Homo sapiens: one gene and its partners. The protein of the gene in region 2 purifies or fractionates together with the protein of the main gene of each other region. This does not show direct contact. Each region holds a gene or a part of one and is shown on either strand. Other genes may lie near its edges.

Region 1 (6,217 bases), on a different chromosome or scaffold from region 2:
TGGAGTCATACAAAAAAAGCTGACGCTTTTAAATGTTTGCCTGAAAGCTTCAGGGAGTCATTGAAAGACTTTAAGAAGAAGAGTGACAAGATCAGATATGTAGTTTACTAAGAACAAACTGGGTAGTCATGAGAATAAACAGGATGTGGATGGACCTCACGGGATGCAGGGAGACCAGCTGGACGAGAACCCCAGTAATCCAGGCAAGAAGAGGTAGGGCTCAAATGAACCCACGTGCACTCAGAGGAGAGACCAACAGGAGAGAATCTTTCAAAGAAGCGGAATGTTAAGGTCTGCTAAGCAATAGGTATAAGAGGAACATTTTATCAGTCAAGGTTCAACCAGAGAAGCAGAATCAGTAGATTACAGACAGACAGACAGGTAGATACCAAAACATAACATGGGGCAACATGGAGTTCCTCTAACTCCTGAGCTCAAGCAATCTGCCTGCCTTGGCCTCCCAAAGTGCCAGGATTACAGGTGTGTGCCACTGCACCTGGCTATGACACACACATATACATATTTTATATATTTCTAAAATATATTTGTATACTATAATATATATTTTCTAAATATATAAATTATATAACTATATAAATATATAATTTTTTAAATTTATAGATATAGCAACATATATTTATAATATATAAATTTATATATACATTTATTTATATAGACATGAATTACGTTTAAATATAACATATAAAAATAATATATAAACATAAATAATTCATATAGCTATATAAAATCATATATAAATATATAACTTTATATGTTATAAATATATGTTGATCTATCTATATAGATTTTATAATTTTTTCTTCTTTTTTTAGGCAGGGTCTCAGCTGGTTGCCCAGGGTAGAGTGGAGTGGTGCAATCATAGCTCACTGTAATCTCAAACTCCTGGGCTCAAGGAATCCTCCCATCTCATCCTCCCTAAGTGCTGGGATTACAGGCATGCACCACTCCTGGCCTAAATATATATAATGCTGACGTAATATAATATTGATAAAATATAGAAATTGATTTATCACAAGGAATTAGCGAATTGGCTCACATAACTGTGGCTGTTGGCTAGGCAATCCTGAAGTCAGCAGGGCAGGCGGCCAGCAACAGACCATCCCAGGGGAGAGGGAGCAACGCGGGTAATGGCTCAGAGTCCAGAACCTCAGAGGGGGTTCAGGGGTGTTCTAGCCCTCCTTTAAAGGGCTTCCACCTGATTAGGTCAGGCCACCCAGGATAATCTCCCTTTTGATTAACTTAAAGCCAAACAATTGAGGAATTTAATTAGGTCTGCAAAATCCCCTCACAGCAGCACCTAGATTACTGTTTGTCTGAAGAGCTGGAAGATGGTGTGTGTGTGCTCCTGGGTAGCCACTATAACTGGAATATACCAGAGAGGGAATCCCGGGAGTCTTGCTTAGCTTAGCCAAGTTGACACATGACAAATATCCAGAGTGATACCTAGGGTTTCTGACTTGGGCGATAGGTGCTAACAGGGAGAGCACAGAAAAATTGGCTTTGAGGGAGAAAATATTAATAGTAAGCTTGATTTCTGCATGTTAAGTTTCAAATACCATGGGATTTTTTTTTTTTTTTGAGACAGGGTCTTGCTCTGTTGCCCAGGTGGGAGTACAGTGGTATGATCATGGCTCACTACTCCAGCCTCCACCTCCCAGGCTCAAACGATCCTCTGACCTTAGCCTCTCAAGTAGCTGGGACCACAGGCATGTGCCAACATGCCCGGCTAGTTTTTGTATTTTTTGTAGAGACAGGGTCTCCCTATGTTGCTAGGCTGGTCTCAACTCCTGAGCTCAAGGGATCTACCTGCCTCAGCCTCCCAAAGTGCTGGGATTACAGGAGTGAGCTACCAGCCCCGGTCCTGCCATGGGTTTTTTTTTTTTTTTTTTTTTTTTTTGAGAGGGAGTCTTGCTCTGTCACCCAGACTGGAGTGCAGTGGTGCGATCTCGGCTCACTGCAACGTCCACCTCCTGGGTTCAAGCAATTCTCCTGCCTCAGCCTCCTGAGTAGCTGGGATTACAGGTGCGTGCCACCACACCCAGCTAATTGTTTGTATTTTTAGTAGAGACGCGGTTTCACCGTGTTAGCCAGGATGGTCTCGATCTCCTGACCTCGTGACCCATTACCCGCGTCGGCCTCCCCAAGTGTTGGGATTACAGGCGTGAGCCACCAAGCCCGGCCGGGATTTTCTTAAATGCAATAGGCCTCTTCCTGTCTCAGGTCCTTTCCAAACACAATACTCAAAAGCTAGTCTTTCCTCTCTTCACTAAATAGTACCTATTTGTCCTTTTATTTTTTTGTACAAATAATTTTCAGATTTACTTCTATAGCTTCTACTACTAGGTCATTTTGTTTTTTTCTTGGAAATAGCACCTTAGCTAAGTTAAATAATTCACCTGTGAAGTGAGGTGGTATGTTCATTTTGCTCACGACTGTCACCCCAGTGCCTAGCACAATATTCAAGTATTTGCTGAATAAGAAGTTCATCAGCCTGTGGGTATTCAGGCTTGAAAGGAAACAGAGGTCAGAGCTAGAAGGAAAAAACTGAGTCAGCAGCATCGAGGTGATTTACGATAAAGTTTTCCAGTGAGAACACACAGAATGGGAAGAGGAGAGAGCTGAGGACAAACCCTGAAAAATCAGGACATTTAAGAAGCCAAGGCCGGGCACAGTGGCTCACACCTGTAATCCCAGCACTTTGGGAGGCCGAGGCGGGTGGATCACCTGAGGTCAGGGGTTTGAGACCAGGCTGGCCAAGATGGTGAAACCCCATCTCTAATAAAAAAAAAAAATACAAAAATTAGCTGGGCGTGGTGGCAGGCACCTATCATCCTAGCTATTCAGGAGGCTGAGGCACAAGAATTGATTGAACCCAGGAGGCGGAGGTTGCAGTGAGCCGAGATTGTGCCACTGTACTCCAGCCTGGGCAACAGAGTGAGACTCTGTCTCAAAAAAAAAGAAGCTGAGGCCGGGCACGGTGGCTCATGCCTGTAACCCCAGTGCTTTGGAAGGCTGAGGCGGGCGGATCACGAGGTCAGGAGTTTGAGACCAGCCTGGCTAACATGGTGAAACCCTGTCTCTACTAAAAATACAAAAAATTAGCCGGGCGTGGTGGCAGGCGCCTGTAATCCCAGCTACTTGGGAGGCTGAGGCAGGAGAATCACTTGAACCCGGGAGGTGAAGGTTGCAGCGAGCCGAGATGGCGCCACTGCACTCCATCTTGGCAACATAGCAAGACCCTGTCTCAAAAAAAAAAAAAAAAAAAAAAAAGAAGCCGAGAAAAGGAAGCCCCCAAAGATGGGAAGAACCACCAGAAAGAAGAGAGAAAGGAGGTGGAGACAGGCACAGGCCTGTAATCCCAGCACTTTGGGAGGCCAGGAGTTCAAGTTCAAGAAAGGAGGCAGAAGGGACAGTGTTGGGGAAGGAAGAGCAGTGGTCAATTTTTAGATTTTTCGTTAAGGCGGAAGAGACATCAGGAAGCTGATATGCTGGAGGTACGCCATTTCCTAAGAGGAAAGACCAGGAACAAGAGGAGAGGCTCAATATGGAGTATCCACAGCGCCCTGGCCTGGCCCCGATGCTTCTCTGAAGCGGCAATCTCCAGAGAAGTCAGAAGGCAGACAGAAAGAGTCCACTGCCAAAACAGACTTCCCCTCTCCCTGCCACCTGGCCTCCTGCAGGCTGCTTCAAAGACCAAAGGCATTTATCTCAGTCCCAGCTGAAGCAAGAGTGGGAGGAGGGGAAAGAGTTCACTTTCCCATGCTCTACATGAACCTAAAAGGAGTCAGCTTGGCTGGCTGAACACACGCTGCCTTGGCTTACAGAGCCCCAGGCTCATACATGCTGGAGACAGCCTGACTGAGCAAAATGCTATGCCTCCCCCTCAGCACACACATACACACAGAGCCAGACCTTCTCTGACATCTCTGTTCACCTTAACACAACATTGCAAAGTCCTCTGCTTCTCAGAATGGAGGGACTATCATCAAGGGGTAATCTAAACATTTGCTAATTATGCAAGAGCCTTTGCCTTCTTAATTGAAGTCAGGATAGAAACTGCAGAGTCCCTGTCTTAAATAAAACATAAAGCCAAAACAAAAACAAAACAAAAAAAACACTAAACGATCTGTCTGGAACATTTCCCCCCACACACCCACTGTCCCCCAATGGGCACTCTTCCCCGACTCCTTCAGGACAAACTCAAATCCTTCTGTGATATATACTCCTACAGCATCCTGTCCTTTGCAGCATGCTGGGCGTTTGTGATTGTCACCTTCTTGTCATTGACTGTGATTTGTGTAAAGTCTGCCTCCCCTGACAGACTGTAAGGCTCACAAGCATCGGGATCATGTCTGTGATGTTTACTGCTACATGTTTCACATGCCCTCGAAGAATATTTACTGCTTACCTGAAATGCATTCCAACTTCTTCTTGGGTCTCTTGGCATCAAGGATGTCACCTCTTTTAAGTCAAACTTAGAACCTGCCTAGGTTACAGAATTAAGAGCACGCTTTCTTTCATGAAGTTGCAAAACTGTCTACCTTGCCTGTACTAAGTCATACTGGTCTCTAAATTTTCTTCTACAGTTACTGTCCCTCCTCCCACACAAGCCACATCTAGTCTTCCCTAAAAAGGTCATCATCATGTCCAGGGTAGCCCCACTTCTGTATGGTCCCACTACTAGGAACAAAGTAGGAGTAAAAATCAGACCAGTGATTTAATGATATCTCCCTCCTAGGATTAGAGAATGTCACAGCTTGAGGCCGGGCGCAGTGGCTCACGCCTGTAATCCCAGCAATTTAGGAGGCCGAGGCGGACGGATCACGAGGTCAGATCGAGACCATCCTGGCTAACCCTGTGAAACTCTGTCTCTACTAAAAATACAAAAAATTAGCCAGGCGTGGTGGCACGCACCTGTAATCCTAGCTACTCAGGAAGCTGAGGAAGGAGGATCGCTTGAACCCGGGAGGCGGAGGTTGTAGTGAGCCAAGATCGCACCACTGCACTCCAGTCTGGGTGACAGAGCGAGACTCCGTCTCCACAAAAAAAAAAAAAAAAAAAAAAGAGAGAGAGAATGTCATAGCCTGAAGACATGTGATCTAAGATCTCAGTTTACAGAAGAGGAAACTGAAGCCTAGAAAGGTGCACATGGATTGGGCCACCACAGTGGGCATTTTTGATACACTTGGCCCTGCACTAAGCGCTTGCAGCAGATATAAACACGAACAATCAACAGATCCAGTCCTCAAAGATTGGACAACAGCTAAGGCCTTACTTCCCCAAGGTCCTCTATCCACTATAGCCTACTTGCCAACTCCGAGGCCTGGCACGGTGGCTCACACCTGTAATCCCAACACTTTGAGAGCCCAAAGCAGAGAGATCACCTGAGGTTGAGAGTTCAAGACCAGCCTGACCAACATGGAGAAACCCCCGTCTCTACTAAAAATAAAAAATTAGCCAGGCGTGGTGGTGCATACCTGTAATCCCAGCTACTTGGGAGGCTAAGGCAGGAGAATCGTTTGAACCCGAGAGGTGGAGGTTGTGATGAGCCGAGATCGCACCGTTGCACTCCAGCCTGGGCAATAAGAGTGAAACTCCATCTCAAAAAAAAAAAAAAAAAAAAAAAGGAAAGAAAGAGAGGGAAACAAAGAGAAAAAAAAAGTAATAGACTACTGCCACCTCTGACGTAATGCTCATCCTTCCCAGAAAGAGCAGATTTTCTCTGGCAAATGGTATCAGAGATCAGAAAACAAGCTTCCAAATTCCTTCTGAGGTATCCTCTTACAAGCAGAAGTGCACAAGATTACTGTTTGTAGCCCCAGGTAGGGAGAAAAACGAAACATCATCGCTGGTACTCACATCAGAGGAAGATCAAGGTAGCCAAAGACCCCAGAAGGTCAGACACAAAGACCACTGAGACAGGCAAGGATTAAGGTCAAGGCTGCCTAGAGCAAGCTGGAAAATGAGGGTAATAATTACAAGAGCAGGCCCAGGTATAGGCTTATGGGTACTCGTCTGACTCCAAGGCAAGTGGGCTGTTAGGCACCAGACAACTTAGAAAGAGCAACCTCCCTTGCCTTTTTCACAAAAGGGCCAACAGTCTGGAGATGAGTAGATTATAGGGGTTTGTGCTCCTGTATCACCTCCATTCATCACCTCCTTAGTCAAGGCTCTGAACTGCTTTTTCTCTCCAAGG
Region 2 (7,004 bases):
TCGTGTGTGTGTCTGCGTGTGGACTTGAGTAATCTCAGCCCTCAGCTGCAGGTCACAGGGCCGTGCCCAGGGCTGCTGCCTCAGACCCGCATTGCTGAGGGCAGTGGGGGTGGGTGGTGAGCAGGGCCTTGGCATCCCCAGTGAGTGTCCTGGAGGCCAGTGGCCCCATCTGCACTTGCACCGCACCAGGCATTCTTGTCATATGTGATGCAGGGACAGTGCTCGCCCATGGACAGAGCCAGCTGAACCAATGGCAGAAGTCCGTGTCTTGTGAATGACAAGATGAGGAGAGCAGCCCCTGCCCGGCTCAGGTCCCAGCTGAAGAATGTGAGGAGACAGGAAGCCATGCTGGGCACCTTCCTGGCCACACCTGCAGATGCCGCCTCCCTCCCCTGGGCAGCGTGATCACATTCCTGGCACAGGACCCCCACACTCAGTGTGCGGCCCCCCTGCATGAGGGCCTGGAGGAGGACGCAGCATACAGGGCTCTGCAAATATTCATCTACTGTCTTTGCTCAAGCCCTTGGGCTAGAACCTGGGTGGGGCCTGGGCCCTTCTCTGGTAGCGGGCGGTATTGGCCTGGAGCGCTTCCAGGTCCCAGGTTCCAGGGCCCTGACCCAAAGCTTTGCCTGGCATGCGAGCGTCAGCAGCCTCCACCCGGCGCTCAAGCAGCTCCTGGCCACATCAGCTCAGCTCTAACCTCTTCCATGGCTCCCTGGTGCCTTTGGAGGGATGACCGCCTCCGGCCTGAATCAAGACCCGGATTGGAGGAGTCTGGGATGAGCTATGGCACACAGGTGTCCTGATGTTCATCCCAGGAACCTGGCCTCAGCGTGGTCACAGCTTTCCCAGGTGAGGCAGGTGGGGCAGAGGAACCCCTGCCCTTTCTGGGCAGTCGTCGCCTGTCCTCACATGTGCACATCTGGTGCTCGGTGAAATAATCACGGAGCCAGCAGCATCTGCCTGACGGATGAGGAAACAGATGGGGGCTGGAGCTGGACCCAAGCCCTGCCTCTCATGCAAGGTGCTTTCTTGTCTCGCCCACCTGCTGCAGGGCAGGGGTCCGGGCGCTTGCTGGGGCAGGGCTGACTGGTGTGAAAGGAAAATATCTTGGACCCCCAAAATCAGTAAGCTAAAAGGAAAATTCAAGCTGGAAACTGATCAGGGCCAACCTGCCTCCCCCCCCTTTTTTTTTTTTTTTGGAACGGAGTTTCGCTCTTGTTGCCCAGGCTGGAGTGCAATGCTGCGATCTCAGCTCACCGCAACCTCTGCCTCCCAGGTTCAAGTAATTCTTCTGCCTCAACCTCCCGAGTAGCTGGGATTACAGGCATGCACCACCACGCCCAAATAATTTTGTATTTTTAGTAGAGATGGGGTTTCTCCATGTTGAGGCTGGTCTTGAACTCCTGACCGCAGGTGATCCGCCCACCTTGGCCTCCCAAAGTGCTGGGATTACAGGCATGAGCCACCGTGCGGGCCCCTGCCTCTCATTTTATTCACAGCCACCCCTCTGCCCACCGAGATAGATGCACATTCTGATTGCCTCCTTTGGAAAGGCTCATCAGAAACTCAAAAGAATGCAGTCTCTCACCTACCTGTGACCTGGAAGCTGCCCCAACCCTCACCCCCACCCCCTGCTTCAAGCTGTCCCTGCCTTTCTGGATGGAACCGATGTACTTCATATATATATATATATATATATATATATATATATATATATATATATGTATGTATGTATTTTGTGTGTGTGTGTGTGTGTGTGTGTGTGTGTGTATATATATATGTATTTTTTTTTTTTTTTTGAGACAGACTTTCTCTCTTGTTGCCCAGGCCAGAGTGCAGTGGTGGGATCTCAGCTCACTGCAATCTCCATCTCCCGGATTCAAGCGATTCTCCTGCCTCAGCCTCCCGAATAGCTGAATAGCTGGGATTATAGGTGCCTGCCACCATGCCCGGCTAATTTTATATTTGTAGTAGAGACGGGGTTTCACCATGTTGGTCAGGCTGGTCTCAAACTCCCGACCTCAGGTGATCCCTGCCTTGGCCTCCCAAAGTGCTAGGATTACAGGCGTGAGCCACCGTGCCTGGCCTTCTTACATATATTGATTGCTGTCTCCTGTCTCCCTAAAGTGTGTAAACCAAGCTGTGTCCCGACCACCTTGGGCACATGCTGTCAGGACATCCCCAGGCTGTGTCACAGGTGCACGTCCTCAACCTTGGCAAAATTAACTTTTTTTTTTTTTTAAGATGGAGTCTCATTCTGTCACCCAGGCTGGAGTGCAACTGGCATGATCTCGGCTCACTGCAACCTCTGCCTCCCAGGTTCAAATGATTCTCCTGCCTCAGCCTCCCGAGTAGCTGGTATTATAGGCATGCGCCCCCATGCCCAGCTAATTTTTATAATTTTTAGTAGGGACAGGATTTCACCATGTTGGCCAGGCTGGTTTCAAACTCCTGTCCTCAAGTGATGCACCTGCCTCAGCCTCCTAAAGTGCTGGGATTACAGGCATGAGTCACCACGCCTGGCCACAAAATGAACTTTCTTTCTTTCTTTTCTTTTCTTTTCTTTTCTTTTTTTTTTTTTTTGAGACGGAGTCTCACTCTGTTGCCCAGGCTGGAGTGCAGTGGTGCGATCTCAGCTCACTGCAAACTCCGCCTCCCGGGTTCACGTCATTCTCCTGCCTCAGCCTCCCGAGTAGCTGGGACTACAGGTGCCCGCCACCACACCCAGCTTATTTTTTGTGTTTTTAGTAGAGACGGGGTTTCACCGTGCTAGCCAGGATGGTCTCGATCTCCTGACATCGTGATCCGCCCGCCTCGGCCTCCCAAAGTGCTGGGATTACAGGCAAAATAAACTTTATAAATTAACTGAGACCCGTCTCAGATTTTCTGGGTTTACACTGGGGACCTCTGGCTGCTCACCAGGCAGTTCCTGACTGGACCTGGGTCCCATAGGTGACCACCCCAGACTTGGCCAGCCCCCATGGAGCTCACAGTCTACACACGGAACAATGACACCGGAAACAATATCATTACAAACATGATCGGTGGGCCAGGGCTTCTTCCAGAGGTGGCCAGAGACCCACCCCTGGCTCTGACTGCTGCGGGGAAGCCGTAGGGGAGGGCCTCTTGGAGGGCAGGTGATCTGGACAGAGGGACCAACGTGTGCAAAAGCCCTGTGGGGGCAGATGCTGAGAAATAAGACACACAGGAAGGTGGAGGCCTGATGGGACCTGTCATATGGAGAGGGGACTCATTCCCTTGGCAGTGGCCATGCCTGGTGCAGGGCCCAGAAAGAAGTCAGAGCTGGCATCTGGGGCCAGGTAGCTGGCATGCACATCTCATCTGAGCCTCACAGCTATTATTATTACCCAGTTGGAAGGACAGGGAAACCGAGGCTCCCAGAGACGACTTGATTTGCCCTCCTCACAGCCTCAGTGCGAGGAGGGAGGCCCCCCAGCCCCTCTCCTCACACCAGCCTTGTGACACCATGTGCCAATGTGTGCCTCGTGCCTTTCACTGTCTTCTCAACATCTTCCTGCAGCTTCCAGACTTTCTAAATGCGAATGTAGTATTTCTAGAACCAGAAACAAGCAATGCATGTTGCTTTTAACATCTGAAACCAAAGATCCGACTTTCGCTTCAACTGCCAAGAATCTCTCTGCTTCCAATCCCCGATTCTCCGGCACCTCCTGATCACAGCCCTGGTGCCCCCGACCCAATCCTTGTCTGTCCACAGAGCTGCCTTCTCCTCTAACCTGGGAGCTCCTCAAAGGGAGGACGGGGTCTGTCCCCATCCCTGGGGCTCCTGGGGAACAGGCTTCATTTCTGTGGCTGCTTCCCAGGAGCCTGCCAAAGGGCAAAGTGAGGCTCAGAAGACACCAGCACCCACCTCCCTCTCCTGAGCAAGCCCCGTACCCATGGCCCCTGCAGCCATAGGCCCCTTGGTGGGCTTGCCCCCTGACCCACGGGCCATGGGCACACATCCCCTTCCCTCCATGCCCCTGGTTCCCACCAGTGTCCTTTACCCTGAGCTCCCTCTGCCCGCCCCTCACCCCTGTGGCCCCACATAACCCAGCGTGGGCTCTGCCCCTGGGTCCTTCGCTGCACCTCCACTCCCTTTCTTGGACATGCTGCCTCCAGATGCGCAGGCTCTGCTCCTACCCCCAGGCCTCAGCCCTGCTCTGCTGACTGCGATCCTCCCAGGAGACTGGCAGCTCCCAAACCAACTCCCGTGCCCACGCCTGGCAATGGGGTAATCAATGGGGTGATGCTCAGTGTTACCCAACAGGCGTGGGGCAGGGCTGCACCTCCCAATTCCCATGCCTACCCTTGTCTCACTGCCAGGACCTATAGCTGCTCGGTGTCTGCCCTGTTCTTCCAGGGCCCTGCCCCCAGGGACCACACTGCACAGCCGGCTTGGGAACAGGTTAGACAAGTCAAGGCTGTCTGAGGCTTTGCTCTGTGTTTCCTGGAATGGGCTAGCAGGGAGTTACCTGATCAGGAAAAAAGAACCCCAGGGGAAGGTCACAGGATGAAAATATCAGCAGGATCCTGGTGGCAAATGCTGCCTTCGCCAGGAAGTCCTCCCAGGCCCCAGCCACAGTGGTCCCATGCCCCCCATGGCCCCTCCTAGGGTCTCTATGCTAAATCTTCATCTCCCTCCTCTCCTGTCCTCACTCTTCAGGCTTCACAGGTCAAGATGAGCAACTGTGGCTCTATTTCCACTCTCAGTGTGCCCAGCTGGCATACTCAGGGCAGAGGAAGGGGCTCAGATCTTTGCAGAGAGACCCTTGATGGGCGACGGCACCTGTAGCTCTAGGATGGCGCATTGTTCATTGGTTTATTTATTTACTGTGCAACCGTGGGTAGGTTACTTAACGTCTCTGAGCCTTTCGGAAGTAACAATAACACCTAATTGCCATGGTTCTTGAGAGGGTCACAGAGGGAGACGTGAGAATGGAAAAGGCAGATCACAGCTCCTGGCACAAAATCAGTGCCCCTCAATGTTGCCCGCTAATGTTTCCACAAGTATTTGCTGAGCACCTTCTAGGTTCCAGGGAGCAGAATGAGCTCAGGTCCTGCCACTGTCCTTCATGGATGGCCTGACTCTGTCCCCACCCCACCTTCCCCCAAGCCTGAGACCAAGGACACGCCCTGCTGAGGGCTGTAGAGAGTCTCTTGGCAGAGTGTGCAGCCCTGTGGGCAGGAGGGACATCTGAGATAACCCTTGGTTGTGACTGGAGACAGCCCAGCGGAGGCCACAGCCTGAGACCAAGCCCTGGCCCTGGAATCTTCGGTAGCTAAAGATGTAAATGCCAATGTGACACCAGGAAGGGACCTCGGGATGGGGAAGGGAATACAGGGCAGAATGCTAAGGCCCATCTAAGAGCAGCAGATGGGTTATGGCCACTGGGGAGGCCCACTGCCTCCAAACCACTGAATTGTACACTGTAAATGGGTGAGTTGTATGGGATGTGAATGCTATCTCAATAAGCTGTTTTGTTTTGTTTTGTTAAACTGAACTGACAAGAAGCCTGAATAGACGTAAATAAATTAAAATATGCTCAACCTCAGTAGCAATTGTTAAAATGTAAAATAGGTCGGGTGCGGTGGCTCATGCCTGTAATCCCAGCACTTTGGGAGGCCGAAGCTGGTGGATCACTTGAGGTTAGGAGTTCCAGAACAGCCTGGCCAACATGGTGAAACCCTGTCTCTACTAAAAATACAAAAAATTAGCCAGGCGTGGTGGCATGTGCCTGTAATCCCAGCTACTCGGGAGGCTGAGGCAGGAGAATTGCTGGAACCTAGGAAGCAGAGGTTGCAGTGAGCTGAGAGCACACCATTGCACTCCAGCCTGGGCAACAAGAGAAAAATGAAATTATATCAGGCATGTTCTTAGACCACGGTGGAATAAAACTGGAAATCAACTCCAAAAAGAACCTTCAAAACCATGCAAATAACTGGAAATTAAATAACCTGCTCTTGAATGAGCATTGGGTCAAAAACAAAATCAAGATGGAAATTAAAAAATTCTTCAAACTGAATGACAACAGTGACACAACCTATCAAAACCTCTGGGATACAGCTAAGGCTGTGCTAAGAGGAAAGTTCATAGCCCTAAATGCCTACATCAAAAAGTCTGAAAGAGCACAGACAATCTAAGATCACACCTCAAGGAACAGAGGAACGAGAACAATCCAAACCCAAACCAAGCAGAAGAAAGGAAATAACCAAGATTAGAGCAGAACTAAATGAAATTGAAACAGAAAAAATATACAAAAGGTAAATGAAACAAAAACTTGTTCTTTGAAAAGATAAATAAAATTGATAGATCATTTGCAAGATTAACCAAGAAAAGAAGAGAGAAAATCCTAATAAACTCACTGAGAAATGAAACAGGAGATATTACAACTGACACCACTGAAATATAAAAGAGCATTCAAGGCTATGGTGAACACCTTTACACACATAAACTAGAAAACCTAGAAGCAATGGTTACATTCCTGGAAAAATACAACCCCCCTAGTTTAAATCAGGAAGAATTAGATACCCTGAACAGGCCAATAACAAGCAGCGGGATGGAAGTGGTAATTTTAAAATTACCAACAAAAAAAAAGTCCAGGACCAGAAGGATTCACAGCAGAATTTTACCAGACAGTCAAAGAAGAATTGGTACCAATCCTTTTGACACTATTCCACAAGATAGAGAAAGAAGGAGCCCTCCCTAATTCATTCTATGAAGCCAGCATCATCCTAATACCAAAACCGGGAAAGGACACAACCAAAAAAGGAAATGACAGACTGATATCCTTGATGAACATAGATGCTAAAATCCTTAACAATATACTAGCTAACCGAATTCAACACCATATCAAAAAGATAATCCTCCATGATCAAGTGGGTTTCATACCAGAGATGCAGGGGTGGTTTAACGTAGGAGGGTCAATAAATGTGATGCATCACATAACCAGAATTAAAAATGAAAATCACATGATCATCTC
Region 3 (6,217 bases), on a different chromosome or scaffold from region 2:
AAAAAAACCCTAAAGGGTGCATCGTACTTAATGGTCAAAGACAAAATACTTTCCTCTAAGATCAGGAACTAGGCAAGAGTTTCTGCTATCACTAATTCCATTCAACACTGTACTAGGACTAGGGTTTGGGTGGCAGGAGAGAAAAATGGGGGAAGGTTTCAAGCAATGTAGTAAAGCAAAGCAAAGAAAGATCAGAAAGAGGTAAAACTGTCCTTATTCATAGGTGACATGATTGTGTATATAGAAAATTCTAAGATATATTTAAAAAATAACAAAACAAGACCACCTACTAGAATAGTGAACTGATGAATATATAAAAATCAGTTATATTTTGCAAGTAATGCCAGGGGAAATAGCTAAAAGAGCAAAAAGCACGTCCTTAGGGAGAGGAACTAGGTAGACTAGAGATCAGTGGGGCAGAGAACCCCTTATTTTGTTGTTTTTATTGATTTTAAAAGTTTTATTATCTAAATATGTTTTTAAGCCTTGTTTCTACCAGAAATGAAATTTCTAAATGAAATTCCATACATAACCCCAAAACACAGCCCCCAAAAGTAGGAATGAATTAAAACAAGAGGAGCCTAGAACTCAAACTCTCTTCCTGCTGAGTTGATATGGCACAACGCTAGTGCTCTCTACAGCACTTTAAAAAATAATTGATCTAGATAACAGAATTATTTCTAAAATATAAATGTTCTCCTTAAATAAATTGTTCTGAAACTAGAGGACCAAGACAATTTCATCTACACCTGGTACAGTATAAATGCTACTCCTAGTCTCCCCCTCCCTCCTAGGTATAATAAAAGAAGAGGAGGGAAAATACACACATGGATCTTCAACCCCTCAGCCAGAACCACTGGAGTCACATGTTTTGGAATTCATCATTGTTTGGATTTTACAGGGGAAACAGGGCATGTACATAATTATAATACATTAATATTCCTAGAGTGGTGTGGGTAAACACTCTGTACTTGTTTAGAAACATTAACAATTCTATAGTAAATTCTATGGTTAATGTTCTATGGACGAATATTAACACCAAGAGTAATAAAGACAACAACAGCTTCACAATCCTTTAAGTTAGGTTTTACTGTTTACTGTGTTTTCATGAAAAAAATTCTGCTTTTCAGAGGTTTGTGGAATGGTGGACCTATATTATCATCTAAGCATGAGGCTCAAAGTACATGTAAACCTATAAAACGAGAATAAGAAAAAAGTAAACCTATTCACGTATCTTTTAGGTTGCTACTGCAAGATATATGATGGTCCTTGAATACAGTGATTTATAGCCATGCACTATATATCTGCACCACCACTTACAGAATCTTAAGCAAATTTCTATCCTAAAGAAAAAGTAAAAAAAACACAAATTAAGACAATTCTAGTTTTCTTCAGTGATTTACTTCATTATCTAACACCTGTTAGCAGAATAAAATGAATTTTTAGGCCTACAAACAAAACTCTGAAGAGATCTCCCCTGTCATCTACCATATTTCAAAATACATAGAATGTCAAGTTGGAGATTCTTTCTGACTTCTGGGCACAAATCTGTGGAATCTGTTCAGAACTAGAGGTCATTATTTAAAGTTGATCTCCATGTTTACTGTAGAAAACAAATTCATAGACATGTGGATGAAGTTTATCTTTACCCCTAAAGAATGATCTCTTTTTATGAAATAGCCAAAGAATTAATGAGTAGTTATACTATTTAACAAGTTAGAAACACATCAGAAGCATACAGTGAAACAGACCTATTTACAGAGTTATGACATTTTTCTGTTTACATGTAGATCAGCATGGATCTATAGCCAGATGTGGCTACATATCATGCCTTATAATGTGAATTCACTTATCTGCAATGGGTAAGGAAAGAATGTCATCCTGATTATCATTTATATATAAATGGCAGCAAACATACAACTTTGTAGATGTGTTTCTTGGTAAGTCAATAAAGGTTCCATAATGCTACAGAAACAAGAACTACCACAACTTTTCTTATTAATGTTATACTTGAAAGCAGCCATCAAATTACTAACCTCCTGTATTCCAAGGCAAAGGTAATAGATGCTGTCAGGTGCATAATTCTCTCCATTTGGCCGTCGGATCTCATTGACAAAATGAGCTAACCCATAGTTAAGCTCAGCTGTGGTGTGAGAGAGTAGATCCTCTTTTAACTTTACTGATTTAGCTAAAAATACATAAAATAAAAAATAATTGTTATTATTTAGCGTCTTATTAAGGTTAAGAAACTTTCTGACGTTATTCTTTGTAAGAGCTCTGAAGTAAAATAAAATGCATTCTTACAGGTATTTTAAGTTACATTTATGTTTTTTAAATTTAAAGGTACTCAATAACAGAAATCTTGATTTTAAATAGGACTTAGGAGAAACAAAATTAAAACACTTACAAGATTTTAACTCATCTAATACCAGAAGATCTTCATCAAGTTGCCTAGTTTTGACCCAGTGTTTCCATGCATTTACGCCATACGTATATTTGAAAGGAAAGCTGCATTCTGAATTGTCAGAACTATCATCATGAGACTGGTATCCTGATACAGCCTTTCTCTTGGCTCCCTATTAGTAAAAAACACCATAATAATATCTTTTTTAAAGCCTACATTATTTCATTACTTTATACAAGCCATCTCTCAACAAAGGCAAATTACAATTGACCCTTGAGCAACATGGGTTTGAACTGCAGGGGTCCACTTGGACACGTATGTTTTTCTGTGTGCCTGCCTCTCCAACCTCCTTCTACCTCTTCCAATCGTGCCACCTGAGACAGCAAGATCAACCTCTCTCCTCTTCCTCCTCAGCCTACTCAACTTGAAGACAATGAGGATGATCTATTTCCACCTAATGAATCGTAAATATATTTTCTCTCCCATATGATTCTCTTGATAACATTTTCTCTAGCTAACTTTATTATAAAAATACAGTATGTAGCATATAAAATATGTGTTAATCAACTGTTATCAGCAAGGCTTCCAGTCAACAGTAGGCTACTAGTAGTTAGCTTTTTAGGGAGTCAAAAGTAATACATGAATTTTTGACTGTGCAGGGGGGCTCAGTGAAGAGTAGGCTACTAGTACTTAACTTTTTAGGGAGTCAAAAGTTATACACAAATTTGTGACTGTGCAGGGGGGATCAGAGCCCAACCACTGCATTGTACAACGGTCATCTGTAATTACAAATATAGTTATCTGTTTAATCTGTCATAAAAATATAGTTATTTGTTTAATGTGTCATGAAATTAGAAAAGAAAAAATGAAATATAGGTATTTGCTTTGAACTGACTGGTATTCCTGAATCTGACAACAGTCAATTAATATTCCAGGAAATGTGATGTTTCTACATAAATCACTTTGTGCAACAAAATCATATTAAATTCTGTGGTGAGAGTCACCAATGATGAGAAAATAAATATAAGACAATAAACTAATAATCTAAATATTACTGTAACAGAAACTGAAGAACTTTTCAACAACTCCACCTTATAGAGAGTGACACTTAAGTACTTTTCACTTTTTTATTTTATTGTTTTATTTTTGTTTTTTTAAGACAGGGCCTTGCTCTGTCACCCATGCTAGAGTTTTGTAATCACGGTATCTCCCCTGCCAGGTAAGTATCCATGCTGGAGTTCTGTTTTGAGGAGAGGTCTTGCTCTGTTGCCCAAGCTGGAGTGCAGTGGCACGATCATAGCTCACTGCAGCCTCGATCCTCCTCCTGGGTAGCTGGGACTGCAGGCACGTGCCACCATGCCTGGCTGGTTTTTATTTTTTAGTTTTTGTAGAGGTCTCACTATGTTGCCCAGGCTGGTCTCAAACTCTTGGGCTCCACCAATCTTCCCGCCTCAGCCTTCCTGAGTGCTGTAAGTGCTGGGATTACAGGTGCCACTGTGCCTGGCCCCCTTTTCACTTTCCTGATGGCACTGTTTGCAATGCAAAAGTTTTTAATTTTGATGTAGTCCAGTTTATTTATTTATTTTTCCTTTTCTTCCCTGTGCGTTTGGTATCTTACCTAAGAAACTGCCTAACATAAGGCCATTAAGATTTAGGCCTATGTTTTCTTCTAAGAGTTTTATATTGTTAGCTCTTACATTTAGGTCTATGGCTCATTTTGAGTTAATTGTTGTGTTTGGTGTCAAGCAGAAGTCCACCTTCATTCCACTCCAAGTATTCTCTCCCTTTTCCGGTTTTTTTTCTTTCTTTTGGGGACAATTTGTGAAAGCTATCTTTCTTAAGGTATTTTTAAAACCTGCTTTATGTTGGAAGTCAGAAACACAGAAAGTTGACAGAATATTATAACAATTACACTTGTTAATGCATGTAGATTTGGTCTACCTGAATGATCAAACTGTCCAGCATGTCTTTCTATGTGTGTTGGTATGCCTAAAAGAGACCAGAAATAATAAACTGTGTACTTCAACCCCACTGATCATCTCATCAGAAATAATCGTGGAAAAAACAGCTCCCTAGAAAACAGTCTAAATTTTTGTCAAATAATTGAACTTACTACTTTAGCAACTGTTTTCTATTTTGACCTTGTATCAATACAAGTTTAGTTGAGGTATCAACTAAATCTGAGATATTTTTATTACTTAGAAACAGTAATAAATTATTACTAGAAATAAATTATTACTACTATTATTACTAGAAATAGTAATAATTACTATTTCTATACAAATAGAAATAGTAATAAATAATAGTAATAAATAGCAGTAATATATTATTACTATATTCTATATAAATAGAAAATAAATTATTTTCCAACCTAGAAAACAAAATATGTTCCCATATTCTCAGGCACACTAAAAGAACACTGTATCCTTGTTTGCCTATAGAGAAATATTGTTATATAGGCTATTAAGTGAATGTACCTTTTTTTTAGATCGAGGTCTGGGCTGTTCCTCATATTCTTCGCCAAAAACAGGTGGTAATAAAAATTCATTTTCCATATCAAGCTCCTCAGCAGCTGACAACCAAATCAGAACTTTTATTTTAAATGAAATAGCACAGGGTTACATAAACACAGCCAACAAAGAACTAACCACAGGATGTAAACCAGCATTCATACATGGGGACAATCTAGGCTGGGCTGGGGAGTAAATGACTCATTGTACCTAACATGGTTTGTGAATTCTGACAAACACTGTTCAAACTCCTAAAAACATATATAAAATGAATATCAACATAAAATTTTCATGAAAATGTATGATACCAGAAAAATTATTATAGTCTGAAATCCAATTACAAGATCTAAATGGTCTTGGTACAAATCTGATTCAATCTATTAAATGTTTTTTCCAAAAACTAATGTTTTACATTCTACTCAGTGTGCTCATTAGCCATCCATGGATTAAGAAAATAATGAAAAATGGGGCACACTTATTTTACAAAAGACCTGAAAATAATTTTTCCTTTGAAGGTGAACTTAATTTTCAAAGGATCTTAAAAAAAAGCTAACTATATATATTATATATATAAAAACTATATAATATATATAAAATATATATTATATATAAAATTATATTTATATTATATATTGTATATATTTATATATTATATACATCATGATGTATATAATATATAAAATTATATTTATGTATTATATATATTATATATTTTTTATATATATATATTTTTTGAGACAGAGTTTTGCTCTTGTTGCCTAGGTTGGAGTGCAATGGTGCAGTCTTGGCTCACTGCAACCTCCGCCTCCTGAGTTCAAGCAATTCTGCCTCAGCCTCCCCAGTAGCTGGGATTACAGGCACTCACCACCACGCCCAGCTAATTTTTGTATTTTCAGTAGAGACGGGGTTTCACGACGTTGGCCAGGCTGGTCTCAAACTCCTGACCTCAGGTGATCCACCCACCTCGGCCTCCCAAAGTGCTGGGATTACAGGCATAAGCCACCGCACCCAGATGCTAACAACATTTTTAAATTAAAAAGGACACAAACACTTCTTTAAACTTTCTATAATGAATTACTTCTAGAATTTTTTTTTTTTTTTTTTTTTTTAAAGACAGGGTCTCACTCTGCTGCCCAAGCTGGAGTGCAGTAGCACAATCTCGGCTCACTGCAACCTCTACCTCCTGGGCTCAAGCAATCCTCCTGCCTCAGCCTCCCGAGTAGCTGGGATTACAGGCATGCACCACCACGCCTGGCTAATTTTTATATTTTTAGTAGAGACAGTGTTTCACCACATTGCCCAG
Region 4 (6,217 bases), on a different chromosome or scaffold from region 2:
GTTGTGGCACCAACTTGCTGGGTGACCCTGGGCTAATACTTCCCTTCTCTGGGCCTTGGTTTCCCCATCTATAACACAAGAGAGGTGGCCCAGAGGGCCTACTTGGACCGTTCGGGTTCTGGCGCTCCTGAGTGCCAGATCAGTCTCCTGAGTGCTAGGCCCTGATGTGGAGGGACTGCTTCCAAACCAGGTTCAAAGTACACGTTAGGAGACAAAGGAGAAAACAAGAATGCTCTACAAAGTAGCTGCAACTCTTCCTTCCCAGAGAGAGGAAGGCAGGCCAGGGGCAGTTCCTCCTTCTGCAATGCTCTCTCTTCTGAGCCCTGGCCTTGTCCAGGCCAGTGTGAAAACCCCTATGCGGGGTTAAAGCATTTCACAACCCCCAAACTGTACTTCTAGTATCTGTTGATTGAAAACACACATAAGGCCCACAAGTTTCAAGGAAGGATTTAGATGGTTCTCTCTTTTAACACAGAAATGCCATATTGGATAAACTAAACCCGCAGAAATAAAACTCACAGAATGCAGCAATCTCAGTCTCTCTCTCTCTCTCTTACTCAGTGTGCATGTGTTTATCTGCCTCTTTACCTACATCATATATATACTTGCTAAAATACTCTGTGATAGCAAAACATCAGAAATAGGCTGACTCTTCAATCAAACAGGACCAGTTGAATCCCTGATAGTACTTCTTACCATGGAAGGTTAAGTAGCCATTAACAGAAATGACACCTTATATGTACTGACATGGAGAGAGAGCTATATTTTTTTTTCTTTTTTCTTTTTTATTGAGATGAGGTCTCCTTATGTTGACCAGGCTGGTCACAAACTCCTGGGCTCAAGCGATCCTCCCACCTTGACCTCCCAAAGTGCTGGCATTACAGGTGCCAGGCACCAAGCACCATTAATTTTTAAATTATTTGTAAAAACAGGGTCTTGCTATGTTGCCAGGACTGGCCTCAGGCAATCCTCCTGCCTTGGCCTCCCAAAGTGCTGGAATTACATGCCACCATGCCCACCATATGATATATTCTAAAGGAAAACAAGCAGGTTGCAAAATAAAGTATAAAGCAAAATCCCATTATGGTTAGAAGGGAAAAGGATGTATATATGTGTTTGTACAAGCAGAGAAGAGTGAAAGGGGTGTTCCCGAAACTGTCAGCAGTGGGACAGGAAAGGGGTAGGGAGAGTCTAACACTTCTTTATGTTACAACTATGTTACATCTATGACATGTTACTTTTATAACTTGTAAATGTTTTTGTTTTTAACAAATTTGCAACTATTATGCATACATTTGAAAATCTCTAGCGTATACAAGAGCTTTTCAAATGTCTACGTTCCACCAAGTCCTACTTAGGGTTACAGTGGTCACAGCAGCTCTAAGCAGGATGGGGGAAGTGATTTGCCCAATAGGAGACCCTGTTATGCCAGTAGAAGCTGGGTCCTAGTGAGTGAAGGGAGCCACGAGCCCACTCCTGGCCTCATCTCTCTCTCTAGCACCAGTTTGATGGGCAGCTTCTTTGGCCCCCAGTATGTGGTTCCTTCATGCTAGAAGAAGGTTCAGAGCAGCCAGTCCAGCCAGTCTTCTTGGAGAGAGAAATGAAGCCCAGGACAGTGACTTGCCCTAGGTCACCCACAAACCCAACCAGATGCCCCAACTCTTGGCTCAATTCCTCTTATTTTTCCACATTTAAAAGGCAACCTTCAAAAAGACTGCAGGAAGGAGAACCAGCACCCACCATCACTCCCTGACAGCATTGCCAGGACAGCTTTTCTTTACACCTATCAAGTCTTTGATCCCAGGTAGACAAGCTCGTTATTGACTTGCAATTAGTCAGTCTGCATGTCATTTAGGAACCTTTTTTCTCCTTAAATATTCCAGGTTGCTCTATAGTATCCATAATTTCTGCTTAATTGCCAGGAAACATTCTCTATAATGGACATAGCAAAACTGATTTACCCAGTCCCTAATGCTGGACACGCAAGTCACTTCTAAGGTTTGGCTATCATAAACACCACTGCAATGAACATCTTTGAGTTAGAGGAAACTGCTGTCTTCTTGCTGATTATATCCCTACGGGCAGATTCTCGGAAGGGTATTACTGGGTCAGAGGGATGAATATATTAGGATTCTGGATATTTATGTGACAGAGAATTCAACCTTGTCAGAAAGGGGCTCCAGGGCCAGAATGCCTGGGCAGATGCTGGCCTCTATGCTTGACCTCGAGCCAGTTACTTATTCTCTCTCTCCTCAAGTTTCCTCATCTATAACATTGAGATCAGCAATAGTGTTGATATGAGAATTAAATAAACTGAAACACATAAAGAGCTTAGAACAGAGTAAACATTCGATGTTAGCCACTATTCTAACTTTGCTATAATTATTATTCATTCAGTAAAAATGCATTAAACACTTATTGTGTTAGGCACTATTCTAAGTACTAATCTTGCCAAGTTGTTACTTATGAATTATTACTGCTTTCCAAAAAGGCTTTGCTTTTTGTTTGTTTTGTTTTTTGAGACAGGGTCTCACTGTGTTGCCCAGGCTGGAGTGCAGCGGTGTGATCACGGCTCACTGCAGCCTCAACTTCCCAGGCTCAGGAGATCTTCCCAGCTCAGTCCTGAGTAGCTGGGACTACAGGTGCACATCACCACACCCAGCTAATTTACAAATCTTTTATAGAGACAGGGTCTCATTATATTGCCCTGACTGATCTCAAACTCCTGGGCTCAAGTGATGTTCCTGTTTCAGCTTCCCAAAGTGCTAGGATTATAGGCATGAGCCACCATGCCCGGCCCCAAAAGGGCTTTGCTAATTTGCATGATCACTAGTATGTACAAAGTGCCAGTTTCAGCACTGGATATTGTTATTTTTACACTTGAATTTGCTGAGTGACCTTCGAAAAGTCACTTCCCGTTTATCTTCCAGTAAACTGAGAGTATAGGCCTGGATGCCTTCATATCTTTTGGCTCTATGACTGTGGCCCGTCAGGCAACTGTCAGCAAGTTGGGTGGGAGGGGTCTGGGGGCCATGAATAGTCACACTGTGCCCCCACTACCAAATAATGACTTGATACCTGGTGATATCTCACTTAATTTTCTTCACGTTCGTCTATTTATTATCTATCATCTGTCAATTATCTACCTACCTACCTACCTACCTACCTACCTACCTACCTACCTACCTATCTATCTTCCATCCTCCCACTACAAGCAAGGGGCACTGGTGCCCTCCCAGCATTAATCTTGTCTGTGGAGGCCACCACTGGATACTAAAGCATGAAGTAGCCTTGGAAGGCAGGGGATGGTTTCACTGGATGGCATTAAAAATTACCCATGGCTCACAGTCATATATAATATGCAAAATCAGCCTACGCCCTTCAACTCCAGAAAAAATAATACTATCCCAAGGTAATGGGGAAGGACAGGGGAGACGGAGGTGGGGGTGCGGTGCTCCACTTCCTTTCCTATACCCCTTTGTCTGTCTTGGTGATTTGGTTCAACCTGGTTCACCTGCTTCCAGACACAGGCCAGAGGGGGTTACAGTATTACAGTATGACTGTTCAGGACCACCAGTTCCCCCATGAGAGTTGGGGCAAAGTATGACTCTTCAGGCCCCCCACTTGCTGGCAGTTGCCTGACGGGCCAAGTCATAGAGCTAAGGATATGAAGGCATCCAGGCCTATTCTCTCAGTTTACTAGGAGATAAAGGAGAAGTGACTTGTCTAAGGTCACTCGGCAAATTCAAGCCACACTAAGTGTCCTCAGTGCTGGTCAGAGCCCTGTGCACCATTTCACACTCACCATGGCAATGGGACGCCCAAAGTCCAGAACCCAGTTCTGCAGTGTGAAGTAGAACCAGAGGTCGAGGTGGAAGGGAGCCGTGCGGGCAGCCTCATCAGCGCTCACAGAGCCATGCCTGGGAAGGAACCAGACGAGAGAAGTCAGCTCTTCTCTCCTCCTCCACCAAAATCTTCCCCTGAGATTAGCCACAAAGAGGTCTGGGGACTTGAGGACAGGAGGAGACACACATAATTGAGTTCTATGGATAGGGTTTTGCTGGATATACTGGGGTCTGGCCCTGTGGTCAAGGAGAAGGTGGACTTCAGCTGCCCCGACCTTAGCTTCTCTCTGATTCAGGAAGGAAACAGCTGAACAGGTGTAATTGCTGGGGTTTCTCCGCTACTGAAAGATGGAGGAAATCAAGAAAGGCAAAGGACGCAATCGTGGCTGAAAAGCATGAAACTTGATGATGGATCATGGCAGCTGACCTTAGTTGAGCACTTACTATATCCCAGGCACTACTGTTAGCTGTTTACATGTATTATCTCATTTAATCCTCACAGAAACCTTTCAAGGCTGAAATATTACCTCCATTTTAGAAACGAAAAAACTGAGGCCCAAGAGGCTCAATAACTTGCTCAAGGTCACACAGCTAAGGATTTGAACCCAAATGATTGGGCTCCTGAGCTTATACTTTTAACCTCCATCCCATAGTTGGGTCCATCAGGATTGGTCTATGGGATGGGCATGTGACCAGAGCTTGGCCAATCAGAGCCCTCCAATGAAATGTGCTTTAGAGAGACTGAAATGGATAGGGCCTCCTGCTCGCTTGATTCCAGCACTGTGAGGAGGTCAGGTTGGGCTGCTGGTAATCCTCTTCTCAGCAGTCCACAGTAGAACCTGAGAAGGAGCCAGCAGAAGCAAGGTGATGTGAGAGACACAGCAGGAAGTGGAGTACTGCCTCACGATACATCTTTGGAGGCCTGTCCCTCTCACTAAACAGTTGGTCATCTGCTGTTCACAGATGCACTGAAGTTCCAGGACCAGTGCTGCCTCCTCTGGGAAGGCTTCCCTGATGAAGCTTTTCCCAAAGCCCCACCAGCCCACTGCAGGGAGCATTTCAACGCCAACCCAGTCTGGCATAATGGGGCTGGAGCTGTACTCTCCCATCTAGACCCTCGAGAACAGGGGTGACCTTTAAGGTTCTCCCAACTCACCCACCTCCCTATCAGAGTCCAAATCCTCTTTACAGAGTCCCTGCAATTACTTGCACACCTCCAGGGACAAGCAGCCAGCCACATCCTAAGAGGACTGAGGTGTGGGTTTCATCGTCTCGTTTGTGCCAAGAACAGGCGCCATGGACCACAAATCTGTATTCCTCCAGAGTTCTGAGCTCAGGCCCTGGTCCATGCTCAGCAACTACTGGCTGATTAAAACAGTCACAACGACCAGTTACTCCTTTTGTAGTGGCAAACATTAGCTTAGAGGCACTGCAAAGACTGTCTTCTGTCGATACTGCTGTTGCTTCCCTAATTTTCTGAGATCCCTTCCTGCCAGTTCCAAGGATGATCCATACTGGCTGGTAGAGTACCCCAGGACAGGGAGGCAAGCTCTTGGGAGAAATCTCATTTTCTAGTGGCAGGCAAGACAGGTTGGGTAGGCCTTCCCTAGGTCAGCTAAGTCTTCCTGTCCCCTCTACTCGGTATCTTCCACCCCCTCACTGAACACCAACTATGTGCAATGCTAGGTCTTTACCTGCACTATCTCATCTAATCCACGCATCTGCTTTACAGATGAGGATACTGAGGCTTAGAGGGATTAGGTGCTTAGCCAAAGCCACCCGTGTAGTAAGGAGCTGTGGCAACAATTCCTTTTGTCAGCCTATTTCCCACCCACTGCTTCTTCTGGTAAGACATGATATTTTCTTAGCCACAGGAAGGGCCAGTGATCTAGACTGGCCCAGTGGGACTTTTCCAACTGCAGGTGAGGAAAAGAGCTCCTTCCTTTATAGTGCTGGGTTCTAAGGGTGCAAGCCCAGGACTGCCTACAGCCAAGGTTCCACCCTCAAGGGACATCCAGGTAAGAATGAAGTAGCCTCGCAGAGAGGATCAGGGAAAGGGGGAGAAAAAGTGCTGACAGTGTTCATGTTGCCAGTTCATGATCTGGCCATATGAGCCAACACATTCCTTTTTGCTAAGGATGGTGCAGTTCACACTGGCTTTCTGTCACTTGCAACCCAGTCGTCCTGAATAACACACACAATTCAAACCTGGGTTTATGTTAATTCAAGACCTGTGCTCTTAATAGCTTGCTATTCTGTTTTTTTGTTTTGTTTTTTGGAGACAGGGTCACCTAGGCTGGAGTACAGTGGTGTGATCACAGCTCACTGCAGCCTTGGCCTCCCAGGCTCAAGCATTCCTTCCACCTCAGTCT
Region 5 (4,704 bases), on a different chromosome or scaffold from region 2:
AAGTGAAAATTTTTCTCTCATCCATGACTAACCTCCAGCAACAGAACCCAGACCAAACCTGTAGGCCGACTCTGCAACTTGTAGAAGAACTGGTCGAGCTGAATCACCTGAGGCCTTCTGCTTTGCATGCACAGGAATCAGAGAGCAGGAAAACAGGTGACAGAAAAGAAGATAAAACAAAAATGACCATACATTAACTTTAAACATTACTCATTGGGTTCTAAATCCATGATACAACTAAAATGTCAAGGAAAAAAGTAGGAATGGATTTCATAAGTTCTTATTAATAAAAAGATTTTAGTGCTATTAATGTTTAAAACCAAATTTCAATATAATCAAAACCATCCTTTGACAAAAATGATGTTATAAGCCTATTTTCAAATTCTCATTAAAAAAAATGCACAGTTAAAAACATCACTGAGGCCAGGCACGGTGGCTCACGCCTGTAATCCCAGCACTTTGGGAGGCTGAGGCGGGCGGATTACCTGAGCACAGGAGTTCAAGACCAGCCTGGATAACATGGTGAAAGCCCATCTCTATAATATAACACAAAAATTAGACCAGCATGGTGGCATGTGCCTGTAGTCTCAGCTACTCAGGCTGAGGAGGGAGAATCACTTGAGCCCAGGGGGCAGAGGTTGCAGTGAGCTGAGATCACGCCACTGCACTTCAGCCTCGGCAACAGAGCAAGACTCTATCTCAAAAATAAAAATAGGTCGGGTACGGTGGCTCATGCCTGTAATCCCAGCACTTCAGGAGGCCGAGGTGGGTGGATCATGAGGTCAGGAGATTGAGACCATCCTGGCTAACATGGTGAAACCCCGTCTCTACTAAAAATACAAAAAAAAGAAAAAAATTAGCTGGGTGTGGTGGCAGGCGCCTGTAGTCCCAGCTACTTGGGAAGCTGAGGCAGGAGAATGGCGTGAACCCGTGAGGTGAAGCTTGCAGTGAGCCGAGATCGCGCCACTGCACTCCAGCCTGGGCAACAGAGTGAGACTGTATCAAAAAAATAAAATAAAATAAAGTAAATAAAGCAAATAAAAACATCAATGAGACATCATTTTTCATCAATCAAATTGGCAGGTTTTTGGTTTGTATGTATTTTTGTTTTTGTTTTAAGTGGCAATACCCAGCCTGGCAAAAGTTGATAACAAGCCTTCTGAAATTTGCCATTAAAGCAAGCATAAATAGAGAGATGTTTAGTAATATACACCCAAACCCTTAAAATGTACATAACCTCTGAAGTTAGAATAGGCTGGGTGCAGTGGCTCACACCTGTAATCCCAGCACTTTGGGAGGCCGAGGTGGGTGGATCACTTGAGGTCAGGAGTTCGAGACCAGCCTGACCACCATGGAGAAACCCCGTCTCTTCTAAAAATAAAAAATTAGCCGGACGTGGTGGCGCATGCCTGTAATCTCAGCTACTTGGGAGGCTGAGGCAGGAGAATCACTTGAACCTGGGAGGCGGAGGCTGCAGTGAGCCAAGATCGCGCCACTGCACTCCAGCCTGGGCAAGAAGAGTGAAACTCCGTCTCAAAAAGAAAAAAGTTAGGATAGAAGATAATCATGCATGTAACAAGCTACAAGAATGTAGCACTTAAAAAACATTTGTAGTACTTATTGGAAATTTCGATTATTTCCCAAATTTTTGCTCTTTAAACAAAAAGAACAAAAATTTGGGAAATATTCTAAATGTCCAATAACGGAGGACTATAGCCTTTAAAAATAATAACTTTAAAACAAAACCCTATCATTCAAAATGATACTGTAAAAGAATATTTGATATTAAATGTTCACAAGGAATTATAAAAGAAAACATAGGCTAAAAAGAGCATGGTAAGTAGATAGGTATTTGTCATATGATTCTTTGTACCTATTTAAATGTTTGACCTATTTCCTGGTAATTTTTTTAAAAACAATTTTTAAGACTATATACAAAATGATGTCACTTTTTATTAAAAATGCTTGTAAGAGGTTTACATATATATGCATATAAAATTAATACTAATATTTTGCCTCCCTACCACCCAGAGATACTCAAAACATTTACAGTAGCTAAAACTAGGTGGCTGTATTACAGTTGATCGTTACTTTTTCTCTTTTTTTGTCCATCTTTTCTAAATTCATACTTCAGGTCAGTCAGTCATTGTTTTCTGGTTCTTTTGACCTATTATCCTCACAGTGTTTTTGATGCCAGAACATTTCAGAGTGCTGCACTTCTCTGTCTGCATAAATAAAACAGTAATTTTATGTCACAGAGAGTTGTCAAATGAGGGTGACATATAGTCAGTGCTTAATAAATACCTGTTGAATGAATACATACATTCAATAAAATTTGTTTTTCAGAATCCATGATAATTAAAATCAGTGAACAATGAAAATAATCAGCAACCCCAGCTATCAACCCACTGAATTTTAGTTGCTGTCAATGTAACACAATTCTAATACAATGAGATCATTTGGAATCTCCTTCAAAGTCACTTAACTGAAAATAGCTTTACATAGAAATATGCCTCTTTAAGATACAAAACATTTCTTTTGCAAATTCTATGAGTTGTTTCCAACTGTAGCCCTATATAGATGGAAATCAATAGTACCTTCATTTTGACAGATGCATCCAAAAGAGAAGCAATATTTTATTTACAGGGATATAAATATGCAATACTTAGAAATGTTCTGGCATCAAAATAATGAGTGAAAATACTCTGAAAATTATAGAGGGTGGGGGGAGGAGGGACCTACCACCACCATTAATTCCTCTCCTAAAAGACAAATGAAATCCTAGACTTTTATTTAACTTTTCCAAAGCCAGAACTGTAGCATGTTCTTGAAATGAGACAAAACTCTGCTCCTTCACTCCTCTGTCCAGGATAAATGCTACAAGTGCTGCACAGTGCTGGACAGGCAGCGCTGTGCCCACAGGTGGACGACCTCCCTTGCTTGAATTTGTCGGGCCCACTAGGGTTCATGCAGTAAAAAGCCTATTCCAGGTAAGGCCATTGTGAATTGCTCTAAACCTCTAAGCGGCAGCGAATCATTTCCTGCTATAAATCTCATCAATCTGGTCTAACCCTTTCATGGCCAGTATCAACAAGCACCCATCATAAACTCTCAAAAGCTGCAAAGAGCTTAAAGGAAAAATTGTGGGAAGCCGCTGCCAGCTGAAGAGTAGGAGGGATCTAAAAAAAACTTCTCTGCTTCTCTTAATCCCCAAATTTCTACAATAGCTGGTGGCATACAGACGAAGAGATAATCATCTCCTAAGCAGTGTTAAAAATCAAAGGGAAGGGAGAGCAGTGTTGCTTCCACCTCTACACGTGATTATAGTTATTTCTCCTGCACTCAGAGAAATCGGCTTCCTCTTTTAAGCAAGGCCAGCTGGTTTTCCAGAGGTGCTCGTTAGAATTTACTGAGCACACACCCACTACTTTGACTTGCATGCTGCACACAAAACTCACCGCTGCATTTGGGTGGGAAAGAGCTAAAAGAAGGGGGCCCTGGCTCAAGGTCTGACAGTCCTAAAAGTGTAGCCTGCAGCAACCCATTGTGGTCACACTGGCGTCTCTGTACAAACCCAGAGCTCCATGCCAGAAACTGCGAAGTCTCACAGGATTCAGAGATGGCTCTGCCTAAAAGGAGAAATTTTTCTAAAAACGACACTCGCCTGTGAGTGGATTTATTTTACAAACACCATTTATTTTACTAACACATGCTATGAAGGCTTTTCTTCTCTAATCCTGATCTACAGAAAGCTGGGTAAGAGTTAAAGGAGAAAGTTCCATGTCTTAAGTTTCTGACTCCCACAACTTCAAGAGATTGGTTTCTGTTAACCATAAAATAAAATTTAGCATTCCTAAAATTGTTTCCATATAACTTATGAATCCTTTCACAGAGAAAATAGGTCTGAAAGCCTTTAAACTGTAACTCCAGACTAAACAAAATTATCTCATTTTGATATTCAGAAAAACGGAAGGCATGGCAGTTAGACGATGCGCTGATGAAGGGCTGCTCCACAGAGCAAAGACGGCTTTCATTTAGCAACGTGCAGCTGCCGACAGGCACAGTGACACCAACACGGGATTCTTTCGCTACATCTCTCAACATGAGACTTCAAGAAAGGAGAAAAGACCTCCTTCATGTTTTCGGAGCATTAGGCTTCTGGTGCAGTTAGGAAATCACTCCACCTTAGCAAGAAATGAGCAAATGCCAAATACCTGTTTATCACACCATTTCTAAGCAATTTCTCTTTACAGCCTTTAAAATTTATCGAGAGTTTTGGTGCAAAACAGAAAAATGGTTAAGTCAGATACCAATGCCGCAAAGGCAACTGCAAGTGGAACAGGGTTGGGGTATCCTGCTAAGGAAACCCCAGAATGCAAGTTTGCTCCTCTTTGCTCACCTGCCTCTGGGCCTCAGCCAAGTTAAAGGGCAGAGTTCCCTCTTCCAGAGGAGCAATCCGTTCAATGTCTGCTAAGGTCATACGTCTGTAGGGGAAAAACAAACACAAGCAACAAATATACCAATTTATTACAATTTACATTATAAAATTTAAAAACATCCCTTTTTTCATTTCTCATATTTCAGTATAGCCTTCAGTTTGGCTTCTTTTTCTCCTGATTGCTGCCCTCCTCCTAACCTCCTTTTATTAAGCTAATTCCAAAAAAAAAAAAAAAAAAGCCAACTTACCCCCTTGGCTCATATAAA

Evidence for each region.
Region 1: the proteins of ALDH3B2 (region 2) and SFXN2 purify together in Homo sapiens (affinity purification with mass spectrometry; one large-scale study listed by BioGRID and IntAct). This does not show direct contact.
Region 3: the proteins of ALDH3B2 (region 2) and ZMYM2 purify together in Homo sapiens (affinity purification with mass spectrometry, with the first as the bait; one large-scale study listed by BioGRID). This does not show direct contact.
Region 4: the proteins of ALDH3B2 (region 2) and CLN6 purify together in Homo sapiens (affinity purification with mass spectrometry; one large-scale study listed by BioGRID and IntAct). This does not show direct contact.
Region 5: the proteins of ALDH3B2 (region 2) and SLC25A13 purify together in Homo sapiens (affinity purification with mass spectrometry; one large-scale study listed by BioGRID and IntAct). This does not show direct contact.

What each region holds. Positions count from the first base shown.
Region 1 is NC_000010.11:102,715,993-102,722,209, reverse strand, and holds part of SFXN2 (sideroflexin-2), read right to left. Parts: intron 5,977-6,217; exon of another isoform or gene 5,883-5,976; coding exon of another isoform or gene 5,881-5,882; intron 5,597-5,880; exon of another isoform or gene 5,499-5,596; intron 4,775-5,498; exon of another isoform or gene 4,441-4,774; coding exon of another isoform or gene 4,430-4,440; intron 1-4,429. UniProt on the Homo sapiens protein: Mitochondrial amino-acid transporter that mediates transport of serine into mitochondria. Involved in mitochondrial iron homeostasis by regulating heme biosynthesis.
Region 2 is NC_000011.10:67,670,363-67,677,366, forward strand, and holds the start of ALDH3B2 (aldehyde dehydrogenase family 3 member B2), read right to left. Parts: upstream 4,262-7,004; 5' UTR 4,074-4,261; intron 3,618-4,073; exon of another isoform or gene 3,372-3,617; intron 1,166-3,371; exon of another isoform or gene 701-1,165; intron 1-700. UniProt on the Homo sapiens protein: Oxidizes medium and long chain fatty aldehydes in lipid droplets into non-toxic fatty acids.
Region 3 is NC_000013.11:20,063,210-20,069,426, reverse strand, and holds part of ZMYM2 (zinc finger MYM-type protein 2), read right to left. Parts: intron 4,977-6,217; coding exon 4,882-4,976; intron 2,577-4,881; coding exon 2,408-2,576; intron 2,189-2,407; coding exon 2,037-2,188; intron 1,344-2,036; coding exon of another isoform or gene 1,317-1,343; exon of another isoform or gene 1,071-1,316; intron 1-1,070. UniProt on the Homo sapiens protein: Involved in the negative regulation of transcription.
Region 4 is NC_000015.10:68,214,731-68,220,947, forward strand, and holds part of CLN6 (ceroid-lipofuscinosis neuronal protein 6), read right to left. Parts: intron 3,921-6,217; coding exon 3,806-3,920; intron 1-3,805.
Region 5 is NC_000007.14:96,184,895-96,189,598, forward strand, and holds part of SLC25A13 (electrogenic aspartate/glutamate antiporter SLC25A13, mitochondrial), read right to left. Parts: coding exon 4,687-4,704; intron 4,485-4,686; coding exon 4,400-4,484; intron 121-4,399; coding exon of another isoform or gene 118-120; coding exon 33-117; intron 1-32. UniProt on the Homo sapiens protein: Mitochondrial electrogenic aspartate/glutamate antiporter that favors efflux of aspartate and entry of glutamate and proton within the mitochondria as part of the malate-aspartate shuttle.